2 separate regions of the Homo sapiens genome follow, and region 1 is linked to region 2. Evidence: fine-mapped expression QTL. A gene starts in region 2. The other region holds a variant in brackets. All regions are shown on one strand. Distances are from middle to middle.

Region 1 (5,366 bases), 55 kb before region 2:
GGAGGCTGCGGTGGGAGGATCACTTGAGCCCAGGAGTTCTAGACCAGCCCAGGCAACATAGCAAGACTTCATCTCTACTAAAAATAAAATAAAAATTAGCCAGGCATGATGGTGCATGCCTGTAGTCCCAGCTACTTGGGAGGCTGAAGTGGGAGGATTGCTTGAGTCTGGGAAGTCAAGGCTGCAGTAAGCCATGACTGCACCACTGCACTCCAGCCTGAGCGACAGAGTGAGATCTTGTTTCAAAACCAAACAAACAAAAGTATTGGCTGGAATGATCCAGAGTGTATTTAAAATACAGATTCCTGAGGCCTACCTCAAGCTCTTTAATAAAAAAAAAAAAAAAAGTCTGGGCGTGGTGGCTCTCGCCTGTAATCCCAGCACTTTGGGAGGCCGAGGCGGTCGGATCACGAGGTCAGGAGATTGAGACCATCCTGGCTAACACAGTGAAACCCCGTCTCTACTAAAAATACAAAAAACTAGCCAGGTGTGGTGGCAGGTGCCTGTAGTCCCAGCTACTCAGGAGGCGGAGGTTGCAGTGAACCAAGATCGCGCCACTGCACTCCAGCCTGGGCAACAGAGTAAGACTCCATCTCAAAAATTATATATATATATATATATATATATATTTTTTTTTTTTTTTTTTTTAATGGTGGGATGTTAGACAGAGACCTAGCCTACCTGGCCTCTTTGTGTAGCTGGGCGCATGCTGAGACCAACCTGGCACTCCCCTACCTTTTCCCCTGGGAAGTGCCATGGGAGGAGGGATTTCCCCTCCAGCTACCTGGTGTCTAACTCACAGATAGGAAGGCTGAGACCCAGAGCTGGCAAGAGGCAGTAGAAGGGCCAGAGCTCAGAACCACTGGGTCAAGCCCTCTGAGAGGGAAGCAGAGACATAAAGGGTGCCGGCCAGGGTCTCAGGGCAGTTCTGCAAGGATGAGAGAAGACACAGGTATGACCTGAGCTCAGGGTTCTGGTCACTGTGGGGCTGGCGGAGGCAGCAGACAAGCGTAAGAGGCCCCAGACCACTGAGCAAGACCCCAGCAACTTAAGGCAAATTAAACACCTGGACTGAAGTCCCAGCTGCTTAGGTTACCCATTGTGGGACCATGGGCAAGTCACTTAACTCTTGGAACCTCGATTTATTCCTCTGTAAAGTAGGGACAAGAATCCCTATCTCAGAAAGGTATAAGACATTAAATTAAATAAACCAGCACACCCAGCAATGTGTCTGGCTCTAAGAAGACGCTTTGATAATTGAGGACAGTAATTATTTTTGACTCATTCATTCCTCACCCAACTCTGTCAGGTAAGTACTGTCATTATCTCCATTTTTCAGATTAGAAAACTGAGGTTCTAAGACATGCAGTACATTACACACGGTCACATCAGCTGGGAAGTGATGGAGGCAAAATCTGAAGCCAGACAGTTTGGCTTCAGGGACTGGGCACTTAACAAAATACTGAACCATTTCTCTGGACCTTGGTTCCCTTATCTGTGAAAATGGAATAATAGAACTTTCCTCATGGGGTTGCCATGAAGGGTAACTGAGCTAATACACATAAGGAGTTTAGGATACTGCCTGGTATTTGGCGAGTGCTCAGTAAATGTGAACTATCTTTTTTATCATTTATTTATTTATTTATTTTTGAGATGGGGTCTCACTCTGTTGCCAGGCTGGAGTGCAGTGGCACCATCTTGGCTTACTGCAACCTCAGTCTCCTTAGGCTCAAGCATTTCTCCTACCTCAGCCTTCTGGAGTAGCTGGGAGTACAGGCATGCTCCACCATGCCTGGCTAATTTTTGTATTTTTTGTAGAAATGGGATTTTGCTATATCGCCCAGGCTGGTCTTGAACTCCTGGGCTCAAGGGATCCACCCGCCTTGTCTTGAACTCCTGGGCTCAAGCGATCCACCCGCCTTGGTCTCCCAAAGTGCTAGTGTGAGCCACTGAACCTGGCCCAAGCTATCATTTTTATTAAGGAGGAACATTATCAGGCAGACTCTCCAGAAACCGTCTGGAAGAGGTAGTGAGTACCTCATCCAGAAATAGGGAGGGATCCCTTGGAAACTGTAGGAAGAATTCAAGTCATCAGAAAGGTTAGAATTCAGTCCCTTTAACTTATCTTCAAGCCCCAGGATTGATTATTGATTGATTGATTGATTGAGACAGTGTCTTGCCCTGTCTCCCAGGCTGGAGTGCAGTGGTACAGCCTTGAACTCCTGGGCTCAAGCAGTCCTCCCACCCCAGCCTCTCAAGTAGGCAGTACTACAGGCACATGCCACCACATCTGCTAATTTTTATTTTTAGTAGAGATGGGGTCTCACCAGGTTGCCCAGGCTGGAGCGCAGTGGTACGATCATAGTTCCCTGCAGCCTCGAACCCCTGGGTTCACAGGATCCTCCCGCCTCAGCCTCCCACGTAGCTGGGACTTAAGGCGCATGCCACCACACCTGGCTAAGCCCTAGGATTTAGTGGGAAAAGTGAAATAACCAAGTGAGAATAAGATGGAGTTTTGTGGGATTGGGGCCAAACCCAAAGGGGAGATGCTTGAGGATCCTCCTGGTGGAAGTGGGGCTCCAGTGAAGGACTTGTCAGATTTGGAACAAGCAGGAAGGACCTGGGGATTTGCATGGTGTGGTGGAAGCCATGGAAAGTTCTTGAGCAGGGAACAGGAAACATCATTCATTACTTTTGGGAGAAGACCGGCTGCATGGGGTTGGGGAGGGAGGGCAGCGTGCAGGCCTGAGGCCGGGATTTCAGGCAGAAGGGTGCTGACT[T/C]TAAGGATGTGGCCCTTGCCACGCGTCAGGGGCTCCTGTGTCCTCCCTGGGTCAACCAGGTAAGCTGCTTCTCCCGCCCTTTCCTGGCATAAGGGGCCCTGAGTCTCTGTATTTCCCCTAGCACCCTCGTGGCTCAGCTCAGTTTCCTCCTCCTGAACCCCAGTGTCATAACTTAGAAGCCACCAACCCCTAACGTGTCCAGATGAGGAAATAGTCTTTTTATTTTTTTTTTTTTGAGACGGAGTCTTGCTCTGTCGCCCAGGCTGGAGTGCGGTGGCACGATCTTGGCTCACTGCAAGCTCCGCCTCCCAGGTTCACACCATTCTCCTGCCTCAGCCTCCCGAGTAGCTGGGACTACAGGCGCCCGCCACCACGCCCGGCTAATTTTTTTGTATTTTCAGTAGAGACGGGGTTTCACTGTGTTAGCCAGGATGGTCTCGGTCTCCTGACCTCGTGATCCGCCCCCCTCGGCCTCCCAAAGTGCTGGGATTACAGGCGTGAGCCACCACGCCCAGCCGGGCGGAAATAGTCTTATAAACAACACTCATTTCACTGAGGTCTCATAGTAATCCACAGGGCTGCAAGTAGAACGTAGGCCCCCTAGCCTCTGGGCACACCTGGCTCCCTGCAGCCCCCACTCCTCAGACCCCTTCCCCCAGCAGCAGCTGCTGAGCACTCCTTAAGTGGATCTGCCATAATCCTCTTCCCTTCATCCCCCAGGGAGGATGAGCTGGTGTTAAGACTAATACAGCCATTAATCCTGTTTCCTCCCAACCATGATCCCCAGGAGCAGCTGGGTGGAGGGCGTCTGGGTTCTGGACCAGAAAGTAGGGATCTCAGCTAGAGCTGGTATCCCAGGAGGCCATGTTAGATCAGATACATCAGTTATGACTCAGAAAGAGGCTTCCAGCTGCTAGCAATGGCTCAGGCTGCCTTGAGTGATTCTCCATTACCAGAGTTGTGGGAACAGGCCAACAAGATTCCAGAGCAGAGAGTGGACAGATTCCAGTCTGGGGCGGAGGCCCGTACAGCTGTGCAAGGCCAGAATTCTGTGTGAACAGTTGCTGTCTCTGAGGACTAACCATCCAGAGGAGGAAAGAAAACACAAATGCTGGGGACCTGTCACTTCCAGACAGTGCCAGCTACCAGATTTAGCCCATTGGCTCAGCCCTTTTCTGGTCCCAGGTCTGTCTTTTCTGGGCGCTTGGAGACCTTCAGGCCAGGCCCACGTCTGGGTACACTCTTTATCCTGGCATAGTTCTTGGACACTGAGCTGAAGAAGGAAGATGGTGAGACAGATGGAACCTGGGCCTCTGGGAATGCCACAGTGTTTGGAAAAGCCCGTTGGGGGCGGGGGGGGACGTGTAGGTGAATCTTTTGTGACCCTCAGCCTCCTTTCTTAGTGGCTCTGCGGACACTTGGTCCAACTCCTTTCTTCAATGAGCAGATCAGGGAGGAAACGAACGCAGGATGTCAGAGCCAGGAATGCTGGGCAGGAAGGATGTGTGGGTTCCGAGGTGAGAAATGCAGATGAGATAGGGTTCTCTCTGAGGCTTTCAGGAGTGGCGAAGGTATGTGGCTTTGGTCTAACTTTGCTTCTCTTGCAGAGAAACCCCGTTCACCAAGGCCATGGAAGTGGAGGCTGCAGAGGCCCGGTCCCCAGCCCCCGGCTACAAGCGCTCGGGCCGCCGCTACAAGTGCCTGTCCTGTACCAAGACATTTCCAAACGCGCCCAGGGCAGCGCGCCACGCTGCCACACATGGGCCGGCAGACTGCTCTGAAGAGGTGGCCGAGGTGAAGCCAAAGCCAGAGACAGAAGCTAAGGCAGAGGAAGCCAGTGGGGAGAAGGTGTCAGGCTCCGCGGCCAAGCCTAGGCCCTATGCGTGTCCGCTATGCCCCAAGGCCTACAAGACGGCACCCGAGCTGCGCAGCCACGGGCGCAGCCACACGGGGGAGAAGCCCTTTCCGTGCCCCGAGTGCGGCCGCCGCTTCATGCAGCCCGTGTGCCTGCGCGTGCACCTGGCCTCGCACGCTGGCGAACTGCCCTTCCGCTGTGCGCACTGCCCGAAGGCCTATGGCGCGCTCTCCAAGCTCAAGATCCACCAGCGTGGCCACACAGGCGAGCGGCCTTACGCCTGCGCCGACTGCGGCAAGAGCTTTGCTGACCCTTCAGTGTTCCGCAAGCACCGGCGTACTCACGCTGGCCTGCGGCCCTACAGCTGTGAGCGTTGCGGCAAAGCCTATGCGGAGCTCAAGGACCTCCGCAACCATGAGCGGTGAGGGTGCCTTCCGGGGCAGGGCGCCTTCCGGGGCAGGGCGACAGCGTTGCTGCAGCCAATGGGGCCTGGGTTTGAGTCTCAGGGTAAAGTGAGCCAATGGGAAGGTGGGCATGGCAGATCCAAGGGGAGGGGCTAGGCATGTGGGAGAAATTGGTGCCCCTGATTGGGCAGAGGTGGCAACCACCTTGAGGTTGATCTCTGAGAATGGGATTGGGTCAGATTGGCCTCCGTTGTAGGCCAGCTGGAAAGGGGGCGGGGTTTGGAGTTGGGCAGTTCTGAGGGTCTTTTGTGGAGACCAGGAGGTGTG
Region 2 (5,366 bases):
AGAAAGAAGAAAGAGAAGGAAGAAGAAGAAGAGGAAGAGGAAGAAGAGGAAGAGGAAGAAGAGGAAGAGGAAGAAGAGGAAGAGGAAGAAGAAGAAGAAAAGAAGAAGAAGAAGAAGAAGAAGAAGAAGAAGAAGAAAGAAGAGGAAGAGGAAGAGGAAGAGGAAGAGGAAGAAGAAGAAGAAGAAGAAGAAGAAGAAGAAGAAGAAGAAGAAGAAGAAGAAGAAGAAGAAAGAAGAAAAGAAGAATGGGCTTTGCAATCAAAAGATACAAACAAGGTCAGACACAGTGGCTTATGCCTATAATACCAGCACTTGGGAAGCCGAGGTGAGAGCCCAGGAGGCTAGGACCAATCTCGTCTCTGCAAAAAAAAGAAAAAAAGAAAGTTAAATTAGGGCCAGGCACAGTGGCTCACACCTGCAGTCCCAGCACTTTGGGAAGCCAAGGCGGGTGGATCATTTGAGGTCAGGAGTTCCAGACCAGCCTGGCCAACATGGCGAAACCCTGTCTCTACTAAAAATATAAAAATTAGCCAGGCATGGTGGCAGGCACCTGTAATCACAGCTACTTGGGAGGTTGAGGCAGGAGAATCACTTGAACCCAGGAGGCGGAGATTGCAGTGAGCCAAGATCGCGCCATTGCACTCCAGCCTGGGTGACAGAGCGAGACTCTCTCTCAAAAAAAGAAAGAAAGAAAGAAAGAAAATTAGCTGGACACAGTGGTGTACACCTGTAGTCCCAGCTACTCAGGAGGCTGAGATGGGAGGATTGCTTGAGCCCAGGAGGTCAAGGCTGCTGTGAGGTGTGATTGCACCACTGCACTCCAGCCTGGGGAACAGAGTGAGACCCTGTCTCTGGAAAAAAAAAAAAAAAAGCAAACAAGACCCCAGCCCTGCCCTTTATTAACCTTGTGAACTTGGATATGTTATGTGACCATGCAAAGCCTCAGTGTCCTTGTCTATACACTTGGGATCTTAGCAGTGGCTACTGTGAGGTTGGGAGGTTTCTGGGAGCTACCAGCATAGTGAATGCAACACGTTGGATGCCCAGAACGTGCTGGCATTATAATGGCGGGGAGGCAAGGACAGCTTTCTGTGCTTTGAGTGGCTGGGTGGATGGAGATGACGCCATCTCTGAGGGAGAACACAGGAAGGAACACTTTGGGGACAGCCACCTCCTTGAGGTCCCCACGTCAGCGCTAGCCATGCCCACTGTAGTCATGGATCTACTCATGGCTCTGGTGGCATCTTCAATCTCTGTCTTCTTGGTGCCCAGCTCAGAGCTTAGGCATATAGTAGGGGCTGTCTTACAGGGGGAGGATCTGGCTCGCAGGTACAGATGTGGGCACTGCAGACACGGAGGTGCAGAAAGATGCAGGTAAAGAAGGAAGAGAATGCCAGGCATGGTGGCCCAGGCCTGTAATCTCAGCACTTTGGGAGGCTGAGGCAGGAGGATCGCTTGACCCTAGGAGTTCAAAACCAGCCTGGACAACATAGTGAGACCCTGTCTCTACAAAAAATAAAATTAGCCAGGTGTGGTGGCGCGTGCCTGTAGTCCCAGCTACTCAGGAGGCTGAGGTGGGAGGATCACTTGAGCCTGGGACGTTGAGGCTGCAGTGAGCCGAGATTGCACCACTGTACTCTAGCCTGGGCAACAGAATGAGACCCTAACTCAAAAAAAAAAAAAAAGAGAGAATGGACGGAGCCCAGGGAACCCTGAGGTTGAAGGGCTGTGGGAAAAAAGGTAAGGACCTGGAAAGAGGCTGGGAGACAACACTCACAGATCAGGTTGGGGGGTAGGTGGGCGGAGCACCACAGACAGGAGGGTTTCAGGAAGAGGGGCTCATCAGGGTCACATGCTGCTGAGAGGTCAGGGATGGTAAGGCCCGACTGGCGGTGTGGGATGAGGGTTTATCAGACACAGATTTGGCACCAAGGAGGTCACTGGGTACCTGGCAAGAGAATGCCGGGTGCGGTGGCCCAGGCATGGAATCCCAGCACTTTGGGAGGCTGAGGCAGGAGGATCGATTGAGAGTCAAGACCTGTCCCATTGGGGACCGGCGCCCCATTGCAGGGGGTGGGAGGAGCTGGTGTGGTGTAAGGATGGGGAGAGGAGAGGTGGGCATCAGAACAGGAGGTCACTCAGACCCTCAGGGGCACCTGATTTCCCCTCCCACTAAGGACAAATTTCATGTTCAACAGTCAGAGCCATCTGCAGATGGGCCAAGAGGTCCTGGGAGGTAGTGAGCACCCTGTCCCTGGAGGCAGACAAGCAGAGCTCCGAGACCCACCGCGGCGGGAGAGGCCCAGGCTGTGCAACACAAGCCCCGTGTCCTTCTCAGCAAGCACCTGGCTGGTTCCCTGCATCGTAAAAACCACACAGAGGGTCGGTCTTTCTATTTATAGTGTCCAAAGAGCCTCCTGCAAGAACACACATGGGCTCGCACCCAGAGGTGGTCGGCGCGCAGCCTCACGCAGACACCAGACACAAAACACAGCCGCGATCTGTGTCTCCTGGAAAGGGATCCACATCCTGGCTCCCAGGTTATTCCCTGAATTCATTCCGTCACCCCCTCTTTCCGCCGGGCCACCCCACCCCCCGGGCCACCCTAGCATCTCCGCTTGGCTCTCCGCATCTCTCCCTGCTCCTCGGGCTCTGCCCACCCCCACCCGCCTCCAGGCCTCTCCCGCCCCCTCCTCGGGTGTCCCCCAAGCCCGTGACTACAACCCCCAGGCGCCCCCGGCCCGGGTGCTGCGCATGCCCCCTGCTCCTTGCGCGCTCCCGCTCCCCCCGCCCTCGCTTCCTCCTCACCTCCCTCCGCCCCCCTCCCCCGCGCTCGGCTCCCGCATCCCTCCATCCTACCCTGTGCCGCAGCCGCATCGCCACCGCAGCCCGGCAGAGCCGAGCCCGGCCCAGGCCCCTGCCCCTGCCCGGCCCTCGGCCAGTCGCCCCCGGCCCCGCCCCCGCCCGCAGGCCCCCCGCAGCGGCCGCGGCGCCCCCCGGCGCCCCCAGACCCCGGCCTCCGGCACAGAGGCGGGAGACCCGGAGCAGCAGCAGAGGCAGGAGGACTAGGAGGAGGAGGAGGAGCCGTCGCAGGATGAAGGATCGGACTCAAGAGCTGCGGAGTGTGAGCTTGGGGGTGGGGAGAATGGGGGGGCGGGACCCCAATATTGGGGGAGCGCGTGGGGATGGAGTGGGGGAGGTGCTGGGACGTGGGGGCGAAGGATGAGATCGGAGGTTGGTAGCCGGAGCACCCCAGTATCTTCAGGCGCCTGATGTCTCTCCAGTGAACCTGCATTTTGGGGACAGTGCCTGGAAGGGGTTGGAGGCCATGAAGACACAAGGGGGCAGGAGAGGTCTCAGGGGCCTCGAACACCCCGCATTCCCAGGAGGGCCCCGGGGTCTGGTCTGGGGATGGGAGAGAGTGGATATCAGGAGAAACCGGAGGAGACTGTCATCCCCTGGGCAGGTTTGCCAAAGAGAAGCATGGGGGCGGTGACTGGGCCAGGCTGAGAGTCTAGCAGGACCCAGATTCAGGGGATGCTACGGGGAAGGACACAGGTTGGGACTGAGATGCCAGCACCTGGCAGTGAATGAAGTGTGTGTGTGTGTGCACACGCGTGTGTCACTCCCTATAGGGAGGGGGCATCTCTCCGAGACAGGGAGGGAAGAGGTGGCCTCCGGAGAGAGCCAGAGGGCCAGGGCCTGAGACAGGGTGACCCAGAGGTGGGAGATGGGGATGCAGAGGAGAGGGCCATGGAACACGGGCCGTGCTCTGCTTGGGGGAACTGGGGCACCCCGGGCAGTCAAGGGCTGATGCAGGCCCCAGGTCTGCAGGCCTGAAGAGGCCCGGCTCCAAGAGTCTGGCCAGGCAGTCCCTGGTTTTGGGGGGACAGGGGAAGGACTGCAGTGGAGGCTGCTACCTGGAGGAACTGGGGAGTGGGGTTCGATGAGAATGGTTTCAGGGGCAGGGAGGACGCTGGGGTATTTGGAGAAATGACCTGGGGCCCGAGGAGGCAGCACTGACAGTCCGCACTGTGCTGGGCTGGTGGTGTTATGTTAATAAGGGTACCGGCCCCGGCTGAGCTGCCCAATGCACTGAGCCTTTACAGGGAACTGGTGGGTTGTTACCCCAGGGGTTATTACCCCACTTGACAGATGAGGAAACTGAGATTCAGGCGTGGGAAGGGACTTGTCCAAGGTCACCAAGCAAGTGGGTGGGGGGCAGACTGCAATCTGGGTTTCCTGTCTGCTAGGTTGACACAGGTCTCTGCTTTTCTGGCCTTTGAAACAGAAGTTTCAGCACTGGGGGTGAAGAGCTGTCCCCTGGATTTGGGGGTGGGGACCCAGGTTACAGACAGACGAGAAGAAGGTGTTTGGAGGCAAGTGACCGCTGTCTCTGGGGACAGACAGGTTGCCAAATGGGAAGCAAGGAGGAGCTGGTGGCTGAGGGAGGGAATTTTAAAGGTTTCTTTATTACATTTTTACTGAATATACACTCAGGCATGAGGAAAGTGACAGTAATAATAAACATTGTTTGAAGTGTTTTATGCATATTCACTCATTTTGATCCTCACAGCAATCCTATGAGACTGGTTATCTCATTTCATAGATATATAAATATCTTTTTAGATATATAGATATATGTTATCTCATTTTATAGATAAGGACACTAAGCTCAGAGAGGTTAAGTAATTAGACCAAAGTCACACAGCTGGTAAAGGCAGGATTCAAACCCAGGCAGGCCGGCTTCAGCATCGGTGCTGTCAATTCCCCTCCTCAGTTTGCAGAGCAGGCTTTCATCCGTGATGTCATTAGAGCCCCACTGACCTCCTGGCAAGTGGACGGGGAGGCTCTTTCATTTTAGAGTTGGGGAAACTGAGGCCCAGAGTGGTTGAATAACTTTCCAAAGGTCACACAGCTAGCAGGTGAGGGATCCGGACTTGAACCCAGTTCCCCTGCTACCAGGACTATTCCATGACTCCAAAACCCAGGGAAATGGAAGTGGGTTGGGATCAGGTGGTGTGGAATTGGGGTACAATTCGAGAAAGAGGGAGGGAAAAGGCTAAGCGGGGTAAGGGGGAGGCAGGGGAGGGGGAGGCCTCATGAATGAGTCAGGGGCCCCTGCTCAGAGGTAAGGAATCCTGTTGGCTGTGGCTGCCGGAGGTGGTGTGGAAGGGTGAAGGGGCTGAGTGGATGTGGTGGCTTTGGTATTAGTCACAGCTCAGGGAAACTGGAGATTCAAGAGGGGGCGGGCGGGGTGGGAAAAGCTGACAGATTCAGGTAGCGTAAGGGTCTCCCTGCTACAGTTGAAAGCAAGGAGCCTGGGATGCAGGAGACACCTGGCAGGGTGTGGGGGACCTGGAAAC

The links. PIP is the estimated chance that this variant, and not a neighbour inherited with it, causes the effect.
Region 1: its variant is the best candidate, but not a certain one, in a credible set for the expression of STX1B in subcutaneous fat (GTEx, PIP 0.55).

Annotation. Positions count from the first base shown.
Region 1 is chr16:31,063,503-31,068,868 of GRCh38, reverse strand. It overlaps ZNF668 (zinc finger protein 668), which reads left to right. Exons shown (of 3, transcript NM_024706.5): 2 at 4,388-5,056. The coding sequence starts at 4,410. Among named protein-coding and RNA genes, the nearest start is that of ZNF668, 8.1 kb to the left of the region's middle. RefSeq lists enhancers at 3,964-4,591, 4,592-5,219. The variant T/C (reference allele first, on the strand shown) is at 2,781.
Region 2 is chr16:31,008,125-31,013,490 of GRCh38, reverse strand. It overlaps STX1B (syntaxin 1B), which reads left to right and starts at 2,853. Exons shown (of 10, transcript NM_052874.5): 1 at 2,853-3,124. The coding sequence starts at 3,095. RefSeq lists an enhancer at 2,316-2,817.